Regions from separate parts of the Homo sapiens genome. Here regions 1 and 3 are each reported to be linked to region 2. Evidence: microRNA targets listed by miRTarBase, many of them from high-throughput screens and not tested one by one. Region 2 holds a microRNA gene; each other region holds the end of a gene's coding sequence. Distances are between the middles of the regions.
Evidence for each region. The annotated mature microRNA hsa-miR-4506 reads AAAUGGGUGGUCUGAGGCAA and lies in region 2 at 2,966-2,985, shown strand. An mRNA with a match to its seed (bases 2 to 7 or 8) in the 3' UTR can be bound and repressed. Matches are read on the target gene's strand: a 7mer-m8 pairs with bases 2 to 8, a 7mer-A1 pairs with bases 2 to 7 and ends in A, and an 8mer does both.

Region 1: the mRNA of ASPH is a reported target of hsa-miR-4506. Seed matches in the 3' UTR shown: 7mer-A1 at 3,467-3,473.
Region 3: the mRNA of RAD51B is a reported target of hsa-miR-4506. The part of its 3' UTR that is shown has no 7-base or 8-base seed match.

The regions. Positions count from the first base shown.
Region 1 is chr8:61,499,917-61,504,271 of GRCh38, reverse strand. ASPH (aspartate beta-hydroxylase) reads left to right here. Exons shown (of 25, transcript NM_004318.4): 25 at 763-3,716. The coding sequence ends at 913. It overlaps CLVS1 (clavesin 1), which reads right to left. Exons shown (of 6, transcript NM_173519.3): 6 at 2,643-4,355. Among named protein-coding and RNA genes, the nearest start is that of ASPH, 210 kb to the left of the region's middle.
Region 2 is chr14:93,947,218-93,951,217 of GRCh38, reverse strand. It overlaps MIR4506 (microRNA 4506), which reads left to right and starts at 2,916; the gene lies at 2,916-2,992. It overlaps ASB2 (ankyrin repeat and SOCS box containing 2), which reads left to right. Exons shown (of 10, transcript NM_001202429.2): 6 at 1-219; 7 at 3,698-3,869.
Region 3 is chr14:68,477,123-68,481,477 of GRCh38, forward strand. It overlaps RAD51B (RAD51 paralog B), which reads left to right. Exons shown (of 11, transcript NM_133510.4): 11 at 526-971. The coding sequence ends at 542. Among named protein-coding and RNA genes, the nearest start is that of RAD51B-AS1, 210 kb to the right of the region's middle. RefSeq lists an enhancer at 1-221.

The DNA of each region.
Region 1 (4,355 bases), not on the chromosome of region 2:
AAGGAACCATCAGTGTCCCTCATAAACTCTCTTTGGATTTGAAAAGCATTGTGTTACTGCCTCCTGTATGTTTCTCTCTTAATAGACTAACACTATATTTAGATCGCAGTCCCTATACAGATATCTTATGAGGTAAAGTTGGAAGCTCTATAGGGTGTTTTGCAGCATTGATTTAAAATATCCCATGGATAACCCACTTGCATAGAAGATGATACTAAAAATATAAACAAAATTTATTCCCAATCTGCCCATTTTCTTCAGCTGGAATACTAGCTAGGAAACTCCTAATTTAGTTTTCTGCTTTATGGTACTGTGTTTAAGCAGATTCCTTTCTTCCATAAAATGAAACTTGAACAAGTGGAGTGAGCTGAAAAGACAATTGATTGGAAGTGTCTTGAGAGGCATAGAGATGCCTGAGACCCAGTCACTGCCCATATGTCTAAACCAGAATAATTGCAAGACATGTAATAATATACAGAATAATTGCAAGGCATGTAATGAGACCAATATGTCTTCATCACAAATCCTCTGTTGTTTGTACATCTCCAGCACTGAGCAATGAAAACTGATGTTCATAGCAAGATTTCTGAAATTCTTTCCTAATCATCAAGGGAAGAATAAACTTGGGCTTGATGTTCTAGTTATTTGGTTATGTCCCAAAGGTTGTTACCAAAGGTAGTTCTCGCACATGGACAGGAATCGATCCTCAGACATCTGAACCACACAAAACTATATTCAGGAATCCTTGTCTTTCTGCTGCAGGACCTGGGAGGAAGGCAAGGTGCTCATCTTTGATGACTCCTTTGAGCACGAGGTATGGCAGGATGCCTCATCTTTCCGGCTGATATTCATCGTGGATGTGTGGCATCCGGAACTGACACCACAGCAGAGACGCAGCCTTCCAGCAATTTAGCATGAATTCATGCAAGCTTGGGAAACTCTGGAGAGAGGCTGCCTTTCTGGTTCCATCTCCTTGGGTGTGAGGATAGAATTTCGAACACCAAGAGTCAATTCCCTTGACTTGCAGCCCGAGTAATTCAAAGCCTCCTCCTAGGGTCAGAAGACACTAAAGGGAATATTTGCCTCGCTGCAATTCATTTAGGAAACACCCTGCTGTGTGTCATCTCATGACAGCACTGGTCTTCTGCCAGTATTTAAGGTGAACATTTGATAGCTTCTACCTTACCAGCCAAAGATATTTTTTCCACATAGAATAGGTCTAATTCAATGTATAATGAGAACATATGTAGAAACTGTGAATGGATTGCTTTAGTTTGTAATTTTTCTATGCAGTTATATTTTTCTAGTGTAGCTAGACTATTTTGTCATCATGTACCACTACATTTTTGTTTATTTTAATGACAAGCTGTATAAATGCTTTACTTCTAGCTATTTAATGGTAGCATTACTGGGGAACTCAGACTTCCCTCTTTTAATTCTTCTTAGTAAAAGATACTCATGAAAAAAGCAGTTTTATTTTCCTAACAAAAAAGAAAGAGCTCATTATGTCAGTGTCTATGAACTGTACCCATCCCAACTCTCAAATCGTTTGGTTTTTTTTATCTTGATTGAGATCCTCTTCTCACTATGCTAGTGGTGGAGATATTGACAAAATCCTATTTCTTTCAAAGAGGAACTTTTCACACCGAAAAAAGAGCATGGAATTATTTTATATTGTTATAAAAATCCCAGATGCAAATTTTTTTAATGCCAATTATTAGAGCTTCTGGGGAAAAAGTATAGTTCACGGAAATAAAACTATGTTCTTTCAGGGTTGGGTGGATAGGTGGCTGCTAGGGTGTCTGGCTCCTGGCGGCTTTGCCATCCATGAGGCAAGGGCTGGGAACACAGTGTCTTTGCCTATGGTAGATCCATGTGAATGTCAGGAAGCCAGCTCTTCAGTCTTGGAGATGATTTCTGCTACAATTCTGTAGAAAGATTAAGGATGGCAGAGTAAAAGGTTACCAAGAATGCCAGGATGTTTTTCTTGGGCGTAGGAGGTCCAGATTACTTTCCTTTTTGATGAAAGAGTTTGGAAGACTGTCCCATCTCTCTGGCTTGAGAAATCTCTGCCATTTTAAACATCACTGTGAAATAGCAATTATTATCATCTGTATTTAGTTTTAACATTACCCACAACATAGAAATAATAGGTAAAAATCGTCTTGCCTACTCATTCCAAAGATGATCAAGTCATTAATCTAGCAAAGTATTCATGTATCAGATTTTGTATATTTTGAATCAAAGCTAACTAGGAATGTTAGATATAAGAATGTAATGATATTCATGCACTGAATTCTAAGCCAATATGAACAAAAATGCTGCATGAATGGCACATATAGGTCACCAAAGTTCATTCACAGGTAGAAAAAACTTGTGCTTTCTTTTCCATCTAAAAACAAAAGGAGACTTTCTTTATCTCATTTAAAGAACAGCTCTTTGAAATTGAAATTGACCCTTTTTGCTTGACCTTAAGGAGATTAGCTTCCAGTAGATGAGTTTGCAAAATACTTTTCCTGTTCTTTTGTTTTGCTGGTATTGAAAACATCCCACTAAATCAGATGAAGAGGCATGGGAGGAAAAATATCCAAATTAATTACTAAAATCGAGAAGAGAAGGCAAACTCTTGAAAAGTAAAAAGGTGTTTGTGACCTTCAGTATTTATTGAACAGAGGAAATAACTGACAAGGGCAATACAATTCAATGTTCATGTAGTAACATTCATGTCACTTGTTGAATTTGGTTCTCATATGTATATTGCATACACATAAATTCAAACTATAAGTCGTCATTTTTGAGCCATCATCTTACATTCATGTAATGAAATTATGGAAGAGAGTAAAAACTAGCTCTTAACTTAGTAAATATAATATGGTATTTAAAATCAGGTCACTACAGTAAGGTTCTAAGTATTGCCAATTGAAAAGCTAGAAATGGTATTACTGTTGCAAAGTGTTGTCAATAATTGACTCCAATAGCATTGTAAATACTTGTATCCCACAACTATTTTAAACCCAAGCAATAAAATGGATTTTCTAATTCACTTCAATTCTTTATTTCTCTTACCTATCTATGTCTTGGTACATAAGAAAAGTGTTTCCATCACTGCATTGGTAGAATTATTTCAGTGTTATTATTTTTGTGATTTCGTATGTCTACACAAAAATGAATTAGTTTAATTTATATTGTGATACAGTTGTTTGAGAAATATTTTTAATTCTGTTTCAACTTTATTTCTCCAAGTGTATAATATAAAAATTACTTCTGTTATTGTTCTCTACCAATAGGGGAAAAAATTAAAACATTAGATCCATTGAGAAAGAGATGATGTAATAAATAATTAAGATTAGTAATAATATTATCAGGGGTGATTATGACCAGTTGAATAATCTCTTTCCCTTGAATTATTTAGCTAACAAATTAACTCTCCCAAATATTTAAAATAATGTAAAATCATATTTTACTGCCCATTATTAACTAAAATATTTTTGTTTGACTTTGAGCACCAACTGGTAATACTAATAAATACCCATGTCATGCAGATGGCTGGGCGAATAAGAGATGTCTAAAAATATGCACTGGTCTTGGAAAACATGGCACAAGTAAGGATATCATATATGATGTCTGTTTATTTTATGTCTGATTTCTTTTGAATGAGTAGTTGGGGACTCCATTTCTAAGGAGACTAGGTAAATAAAATGACCTTTGACATTTCATCCTGCATTTCTAGTCTTCTCTTACTTCAGTACTTGCATATTTAGCCATCCATATGGGTCATGCTCCATGATTGAATATTTACCCTCTCAGCAACAACCATGGTCTTTCTCCACATCTTTAATGGTTGCAGGAGGGTTGTGGGGGCAAGGGTAAATGGTTTGATAGCACTTTTCTTTGCTGTAGTGACCCAGTTGAGGCAACTGGAATGGATTCATTAATCACTGACATGTGATTTTCATGAGACATCTCCTCTGCAGACACATGCTGCACTAATGGGCTTTTGAGCTGCCTGTGGTAACTCACATTGCTCAGATGAAATAATCGTATTTCACGTCCATGTGTCTTCCTTTAACGTCAGCTCATGACAGTCAGCTAGTGACCTGACAAGAGATGTGACATCAAAATAATTTTTTGCAGGATATCATCAAAATAAGCAAACTTTGCAAATACCCAGACCTATGAGAACATGCTCTTAGGCTGAACAATTCGATGCTGGTGATGAGGTCAAAGGAAATAATTCAGTAAGAATGGAAATTACTGGAGATACTATTGTCTCAGGGCTTTGTACTACATGAAACTTGACAGTGGTGTCTGTACAGTTTAACTCTGATACATTTACTTGGAAATGCACTTAATTT
Region 2 (4,000 bases):
TGAAGATTCTGGTGCAGCACAATGCAGACACCAACCACCGCTGCAACCGCGGCTGGACCGCTCTGCACGAGTCTGTGTCTCGCAATGACCTGGAGGTCATGCAGATCCTGGTGAGCGGAGGAGCCAAGGTGGAATCCAAGAACGCCTACGGCATCACCCCCTTGTTCGTGGCCGCCCAGAGTGGACAGTTGGAGGCCTTGAGGTTCTTAGCCAAGTACGGTGAGTGGCTAAGGGTCCCTAGGTCATGGAGTCCCCAAAGGGCACACGGGAAGGATGTCAGAGGTCAGCTCTAAGGGAAGGCGAGTTAGGGGTCATCTTGTGCGCACACTGATGGAGTGAGAGTTTCCTCCTAGAGTGCTGTGTTGAGAAAGATGCTGAGGCTGTGTCCAGGCTCAGTGGGAAGAGCGTCGGGATCCACTAGTGACATCTGCCATTAGAACAAATATGGGGGGGTCTGGCCCACGGACCACCTATTTGCCATTTATAATCTAGTCCAACATTTTCATTTTACAAACGAGGAGTCTGAGGCACAGAGTGAGGAAGTGACTTATCTATAGTCCTATAGCAAATTAATTGTAGAACTAGCTAGACTCTTGGTCTCCTGACACCCCAACCGCTTCTCTTTCCACCACATCACACTTCAGGGCCAGAAGGAACCTCAAGCAACATTTAGATCACCTCCCCCTTTTATGGGTGATGAACTCAAGGACCAGGATGGGAAAGTGATTTGTCCAAGGTCACACAGCAAATTAGTGGCAGAGCTGGGACTTGAACCCAGCTCTTTGCCCTCTTTGCCTGTGAAATATCTTAATGGGAGAAAATAACACAATACGGCCTGCATTATGATGGCCCAGTAGCAAAAGACCACGAGACATGGCAGACTTGCTTTTGGTTTCAGAACATTATATCCTGATCTTCCCCAAGAATGCCTTTGATTTCTTTTCTCTCTCCACGGGAAGTAACCCTCTCTCTAGCAACAGAGAAGCCAGAGGTAATCCAGACGCTGAGGCTGAACTGTAGGAATCTGTTGAGGACTTGCTAAGTGTGAACACAGATCGGGGCAATGGAGCTTTCCCCGTAGCCCCATGTGGTAGGTAGTATGCTCGTCCCATTTTATAGATGAAGAGACTGAGGTTCAGAGAGGTTAACTAATTGGTCACAGTCCAAGCCTGGATGCTGACCCACTGCCATCTGACTCCAAACTGCACATGCTTTGTGCTCTGCCAGCCACCCTACCCTGTGAGAGTCGGCAGCACGGGACTCTGCCCAGGTAAGCATCCATGCACTCAGCACGCGCCTGAGCAGTGGGGAACATAGGTGCAGGCCCTTCCGTGCAGCCAGGAACAAATCTGGACTGCCCAGCGTAAGAACAAAGGGGCACAGGCAGGGTCCTGGGAGCCCAGGCCGGGGGTCCTGGTGACGGACAGCATGCTCAGCAGGCAAGGGTGACCTCAATAACTCCAAACATCTGTCCAGGTCTCCCACCGACACTCTGAGTCAGGGTGTGTTCACTTTGTGGGCTGAGTCCATTTTCCAACCCAAATATTTTTCTTGTGCAAGCAGGCGGCTTTGCTGGTAGGGTCCAGGCTCTCCAGGGCACCTGCCTCTGAGAGCCCAACAGAGGGTTAGGGCGGCTCACTGGCTCTCCCTCAGGCCGGAGGCAGGACGAAGGCCTCTGCCCAGCTCCTTCCATCCTGAGCAACTGGCATTTGCTGAGCAGCTTCCCTGTGGCAGGCACTGCGCTGAGAGATGTGCTTACACTATTTTGTTTACTCCCTGCAGTAACCCCGAGGGGTAGGTACTATTATCCCTGGTCAACAGATGAGAAAACCGAGGCTCCTAAAGGCTTTCTGAGACTGCAGAGCTTGTGAGCCATGAAACAGATGCCTCAGCTGATTCTCATCTGTCGCCAAAGCCTGTGCTGTTTCCGCTGGATCAGAAACTGGTCACACCATCATCAAAAATAATAAATTACCAGAAAGCCTGAGATCAGCAACATGCTTAGAGAGATGACCTGTGGTTAGCAGATGCTTTTGATTTTAGCCCCACTGACATCTTCAAGCATCTTAGTTCCATGTCCTTCCAGAACAAGGAAGGACTGCTGAATTCTCTTTCTGCAGAGAAAGCTGTGTGCACATCAGTTCTCCCCCTCACCCCCTGCCCGAGGAGATGAAGCAGGTGTAGAAGACTGAGCTGAAGGCAGATTGTCACCAGGCCTGATTCCTCCTTCTAGCAGCATGGATTAATGTTTTCTGGGTTTTGTTTTGTTTTTGTTTTGGGAACAGGGTCTCACTTTGTTGTCCAGGCTGGAGTGCAGTGGTGTGATCCCGGCTCACTGCCGCCTATATCAACCTCCTGGGCTCAAGTAATCCTTGCACCTCAGCCTTCCAAGTAGCTGGAACTACAGGCATGTGCCACCATGCCCGGCCAGGGGCTACTCAGTAGGTGTAGAGAACAGAGTCTCATTAGGTTACCCAGGCTAGTCTTGAATTCCTGAGCTCAAGTGATCTGCCCGCCTTGGCCTCCCAAAGTGCTGGGATTACAAGTGTGAGCCATTGCACCTGGCCTAGTATTTTCTTGGGAGGAGACAGAAAGTAATTCTCTTATTCCTTGAAGTGAAAGGCAGAGAATTAGCAATTAGCAAGCATGCAGGGAATACCTAGCACAAGGAGCACTAGTGATAAGAGCTAGAAGTTATTGATAGCAGTAAGGATCAATATTAATAGCATGGTAACATTAGCAATAATAATAGCAATATTAATAGCAAATTGCAATTAATAATGTTATTGGGGTTTTCCTTTATTAGGGGCTCTGTGCCCTCCTAGACCTGTGAGGCCTCTCTCAGGGCAGAGCCCAGGCCCTCTTACATGGAGTGAGGGTTAAGAGCATGGCCTCTACCATCAGAATATCCACCATGGCCTCTGCCATCAGACCATCTGGGTTCAAGTTTGGCTCCATCTTTATGAAATGGGTGGTCTGAGGCAAGTGGTCTAGGTGTTCTGTGCTTCACTGTCCCCATCTGTAATCTGGAGATAAGAGCAGTACTGACCTCACAAGGTGACCACCCACTGTGGATTCAGATATAGCCTGTGGAAAGCACGATGTTCAGCACGTAGTAGGTGCTCAGGAAAAACCAGCATCATCGTGGCTGCTTGTAGCCTCTCAGAGGCCTCTGTTCGGGCTGGCAGGCCCCTGGGTCTTTTTTTTTTTTTTTTTTTTTTTCCAGGCGGAGTTTCACTCTTGTTGCCCAGGCTGGAGTGCAATGGTGCAGTCTCGGCTCACTGCAACCTCCACCTCCTGGGTTCAAGCGATTCTCCTGCCTCAGCCTCCCGAGTAGCTGGGATTACTGGCGCCCACCACCATGCCCAGCTAATTTTTGTATTTTTAGTAAAGACAGGGTTTCACCATGTTGGCCGGGCTGGTCTCGAACTCCTGACCTCAGGTGATCCGCCTGCCTCAGCCTCCCAAAGTGCTGGGATTACAGGCATGAGCCACGCCTGGCCAGGCCCCTAGGTCTTGATGTTGTTGAAAGAAGCTGGGGGTAGCCCCAGGTAGACTCCTCCTTCCTAAGGGTCGTTGTTAAAGGTCCCGTGCATTACCGTGGTTAGCACAGCAGGCCCACCACGCGGTGGCGTTACATTGAGGACAGCAACTTCCCGGTCACTTGGCCACTTGCTGATCTCTTCTCCTTCCCCAGGTGCTGACATCAACACGCAGGCCAGCGACAACGCGTCTGCCCTCTACGAGGCCTGCAAGAATGAGCATGAGGAGGTGGTGGAGTTTCTGCTGTCACAGGGTGCCGACGCCAACAAGACCAACAAGGACGGCTTGCTCCCGCTGCACATCGCCTCCAAGAAGGGCAACTACAGGTCAGCCCAGGCTCCGCCAGCACCCAGGCAGCTCTCCCGAGGCCCACACTGGGAGTAGGGGATTGGAGGGGTGGGCCTGCCCTGAATGTCCCACCCACAGGATTAGGGAGGCCCAGGAGAGGTCAGAATGG
Region 3 (4,355 bases), 25 Mb from region 2:
CACAACCTTGTAAGGAGTGTTTTGGTCAGCCGCGTCCCTATGCGAGGCCAAGTCTCCCCCACAGGGCTGCTTTCAATGGCTACCATCATAGTGGAAGTATTGGGCATTTGTTAAGGACTGTGGTGTGCTAGATATAGCACAAAACATCTAAATCATGGTCCCCTGCCTTTGTGAGGGCTTCCTGGCTACAGATGGCAGCTGGCTTTCTCAGGGGAAACTTGGGGGTCATAGAGAAAGCTGAAGAGGGGTGCTTGCTTCTGTGGATGACCTCTTCCCACCCAGTGCAGCGACACTCCCCTTTTGTCTATAGCTATCCTTAGTCAAGCCAGGGCTGCGGGACCCTAACCCACACTTCCGCTGTGTTTCTGGATCTCTGGTTTGCAAGGCCAGTGGCTCTGTGGGCAATACGTATGAAAGAGGACTGCTGTTGGAGGAAAGTTCCATTTAGGTTGCTGGTGGGAAGTTAGTGCATTTCATAACAATTTTTTTTTTTCAAACTTTCTCTTTTTTTTTTTTTTCCTTTAGGCCAAGAGAAGCCATAGGGATACTGTGACCTTTGTCTAGAGTTGATGGGGGTGTGATTTGTGAAATAAAACAGGACCGTACTGCTTGGAAGAAGGAAACGGAAGCTGACATAATGGGGATTAATTAGTTGATTGCTGTTGAGATGGTAACAGATTTGCTCCTAAACCATTGAGCTAGCGATTTCAGACCTAGCAGGGAAGGTGAAGATGAAGAAGCCTTTGTTCAGGTCTCTAGATGTGTAGGGCTGAGGGCTTTGCCGCCATGGGATGTCAACAGCCATAATAATAATTTGCACTTATATAGCACCTTTCAACCAGGCACCTCAAAGCGGTTTAACCACATTAATTAATTAAAGCCCACAATCCTCCTGGGGAGAGGAGGAGGATGACTAACAAGATTTGTAATTACAGGAGGGAACATTTCCGAATAAAGTATTGTCTACCAGATAAAAAGAGTAGGTGTAAAGGAATTGGGGTCTCCAAATAGTAACCGATTCAGAAATGAAATCATGGAATGATGTGGGAGGCTGGGGGCGGGCATGGGCAAGGGGGTCGACTCTGTGTCAGAGGGAGGTCGATGGGCTCAGAATTCACTGACAGGTTCAGATCCAGCCGAGAAGTGGAGCATGTATGGTATTAGTGGCATTTGAAGGTCATTAGTGGCATAACTATTGTAGTGTAAATTCAAGTTTTATTGGTATATTGTGTATAGCCCTGCAGAACAAAGACTGAGACTCATGCAGTATTTAATAAAGGATGAAATGATTTCTTTAGATTTAAAGCCCAAAGCTGGGCCAGTCAATTAGCAAATAAATCAATTGGTGACCCGTAGGATAATTTAGTCGTTTCCAGTAGAACACCCAGCCTACACACTCCTACTGCCATGAGGCTCTGATTGAAGCATCAGACTGGGTTCAGGGCAAGGTCTGGGGGCTTTAGCCCCTTCAAAGCCAGGCATTAAATCTTTCCAGCCTTTGGCCTTGTGACCTATCTTACCCAGGTTGTTAGTGACCTCAAGCTGTCCTCTGTAGAATCACTTTGTACCTGCTCCTCCATCAGAGATTTTTAGTGCATTGAGGGCTAGAATCAAGTCTCATCCTATTTCATGTCTCCTATGAGTGCCCAACAGAGTGCTGTGCACCAAGTAGGTGCAGATTGATGAAGATTGATGAAGAAAGACTGAGTCCTTTAACGACTCAGTATTTGTTGAGCGCATACCAAGTGCTCAGGTAAAGCTTGAAAACAAAGCTCAGTGTGTGCCTGCCCTCCAAAAATGTACTCCAAGGAATGGGAAAAGACTTACAAACTATTAACTATAATATAAAGCAGAATCACATCCAAGCCCCGGGCAGCAAGGGCAATAGGAAGAGCATCTTATTCAGCTGGAGTGAATCAGGGAAGGTATTGGTGTGCTGTGCATCGGAAGGCAAGAAGGATTTGGGTAGACCTGGAAGAGGCAGAGCAGGAAGATGTCCCAGGCTGTGACCATGTGTCTCCCTCTGAGTGAGGTACATTTTGAGAACTTGGGATGTTCAATAGAATGTTGGTGAAAACCAAGGTGAGTTTTCGTATTTAATCAGGAAATATACATTTCCTGTGGATTCTTATGACATGAATTGGTTAATTTCAGACATCAAGGGACTATTTGAGAAGTTGGAGGTAGGGTTCAGGATACAGTACTCCAAAATCCGGCACGTTGGCCTTGAAAAAACAGCAGAGGCAGGAAGGCCGTTGTCACCTTCCCCTCACCCCTCCTCTCCTGAAGCAGGTTGTAAAATGTTCATTCCTGAAGTGTTCACTCTCTACCCAGAGGAAAGGAATGTCCTTATCTCTGAAGACACAGGGACAGAGAAGAATCTGAACAAACAGGCCTTGCTAAATTTCCCCCAGTTTATTCCCATTAGATCATACTCTTTAGTCCTCCAATCATACTTCTGCCTGACTGTCTACTCTTCATCAAACTTAAGCATAAAAATACACAGATTTCCCTGGTTTGGGGGTGGTCTTTCTTCTTATTCTTCTTTTTTTTTTTTTTTTTTTTTGCCAGAGTCTCACTCTGTCTCCCAGTCTGGAGTACAGCAGTGCTATCACAGCTCACTGCAGCCTCAACCTCCCAGGCTCAAGCAATACTCCAACCTCAGCCTCCGAAGTAGCTGGGACCACAGATGGGCATCACCACACCTGGCTAATTTTTTATTTTTTGTAGAGACAGAGTCTCTACTGTGTTGCCCAGGCTGGTCTTGAACTCCTGGGCTCAAGTGATCTTCCAGGCTCAAGCCACCTTCCCAGCTCAGCCTCCTAAAGTTCTGGGATTACAGGCATGAGCCACCGCGCCCAGCCAGGTCTTCATTTCTAAAGGTTCTCATGTCACATAAAACTTACGTTAAATAAATTTTTATGCTTTTCTCTTGTAAATCTTGTTGTTGTTGCTGTTATTGTTGTTTGAGATGGAGTGTTGCTCTGTCACCCAGGTTGGAGTGCAGTGGCATGATCTTGGCCCACTGCAACCCCTGCCTCCCGGGTTCAAGCAATTCTCCTGCCTCAGCCTCCCATGTAGCCAGGATTACAGGCATGTGCCACCATGCCCGGTTAACTTTTGTACTTTTTTTTAGTAGAGATGAAGTTTCACCATGTTGGCCAGGCTGGTCTCGAACTCCTGTCCTCAGGAGATCTGCCCTCGTCGGCCTCCCAAAGTGCTGGGATTACAGGTGTGAGCCCGGCCTTCTCTTGTAAATCTGTCTTTTGTTATGGGGGCCTTGGCCATGAACCTTGCAATGCGTTCATGCAAGATATTACTTTTTCTCCCCTACAGTTTCTGGTGCCCAATATGGGGTGACTGAGACACCCCACTCATTCTGGATCTTGCAGATGAGATCCTGGGGCAACTGACAAAAAGCTGGAAAAATTAGAATTCTTATCAAAGTCAGCTCTCCCAGATCTCTGTCTGTAGTGCTTGGTCAAGAGAGACGTTAGAAATTTCTCCTTGTCCCTTCCTTCCCAAATTCAGATTATCAGGAAAAAAAAAAAAATGTCTATATTGTGACTCTCTGACTAAATCTGGCTTTAAGGTACTCGTTTGTTACTGATCCTTTCCCTCGCAGGGACTGCTGTCTCTTTCCTTGTTTTTCTCAATTTCTGTCCTGATAACTTGGTTTGATTTTCTCCCTGTTGGGGCATGCAAGCTGTCTTGAGTTCCCCAACCAACTTCAGGGGAGGGAACTCAAGAATACGGCTGGACAGAAATGTGGGTTGCACCCTATTTCCAGCTATCCTACCAAGTATTGCCAGCTCTTGGGGGGTTTATTTGTATATTTCTTTTGACTCTCTTTGGGGGTAGTTCTGGATTTGGGAGGGCTGCACTCTCTTTTGAGAACCCCTTCTTAGTCCATGGTGAAGTCATAAAAGGCTCTTTGGTTTTGGTTGAGTCACTTAGTAGGTACTTTCAGTTTAAAACAAGAAAAAGGTAAATGTATATGTTTTTCTCTTGTTAATCTGTGTTTTCTTGTAGTGCTCTCAGCCACGAACCTTGAGATAGGTGAGGAAAATATATTATTTTTCCTCCCTTACATTGAGCAAGATGCTGTCTGTTCTCTGCAACTCCTAATTGTTCTCTCTTCACCTCCATTGTCTGCCACGAAAAAAAAAATGCTACATTGTTCACACATTAAAATGGATCACTCAAAAGTGTCTGAAAAAAGCAAGAGGAAAACATATCCTAATTCCAAATGTCAAAAATTAAGTGGCTCCTCCTTGAGACTACCTTTTTGACCCCAAGAAACAATAAGAGAGTGCCCTATACCCAGTGTTTGACAAACCAATACAGTACTCTCC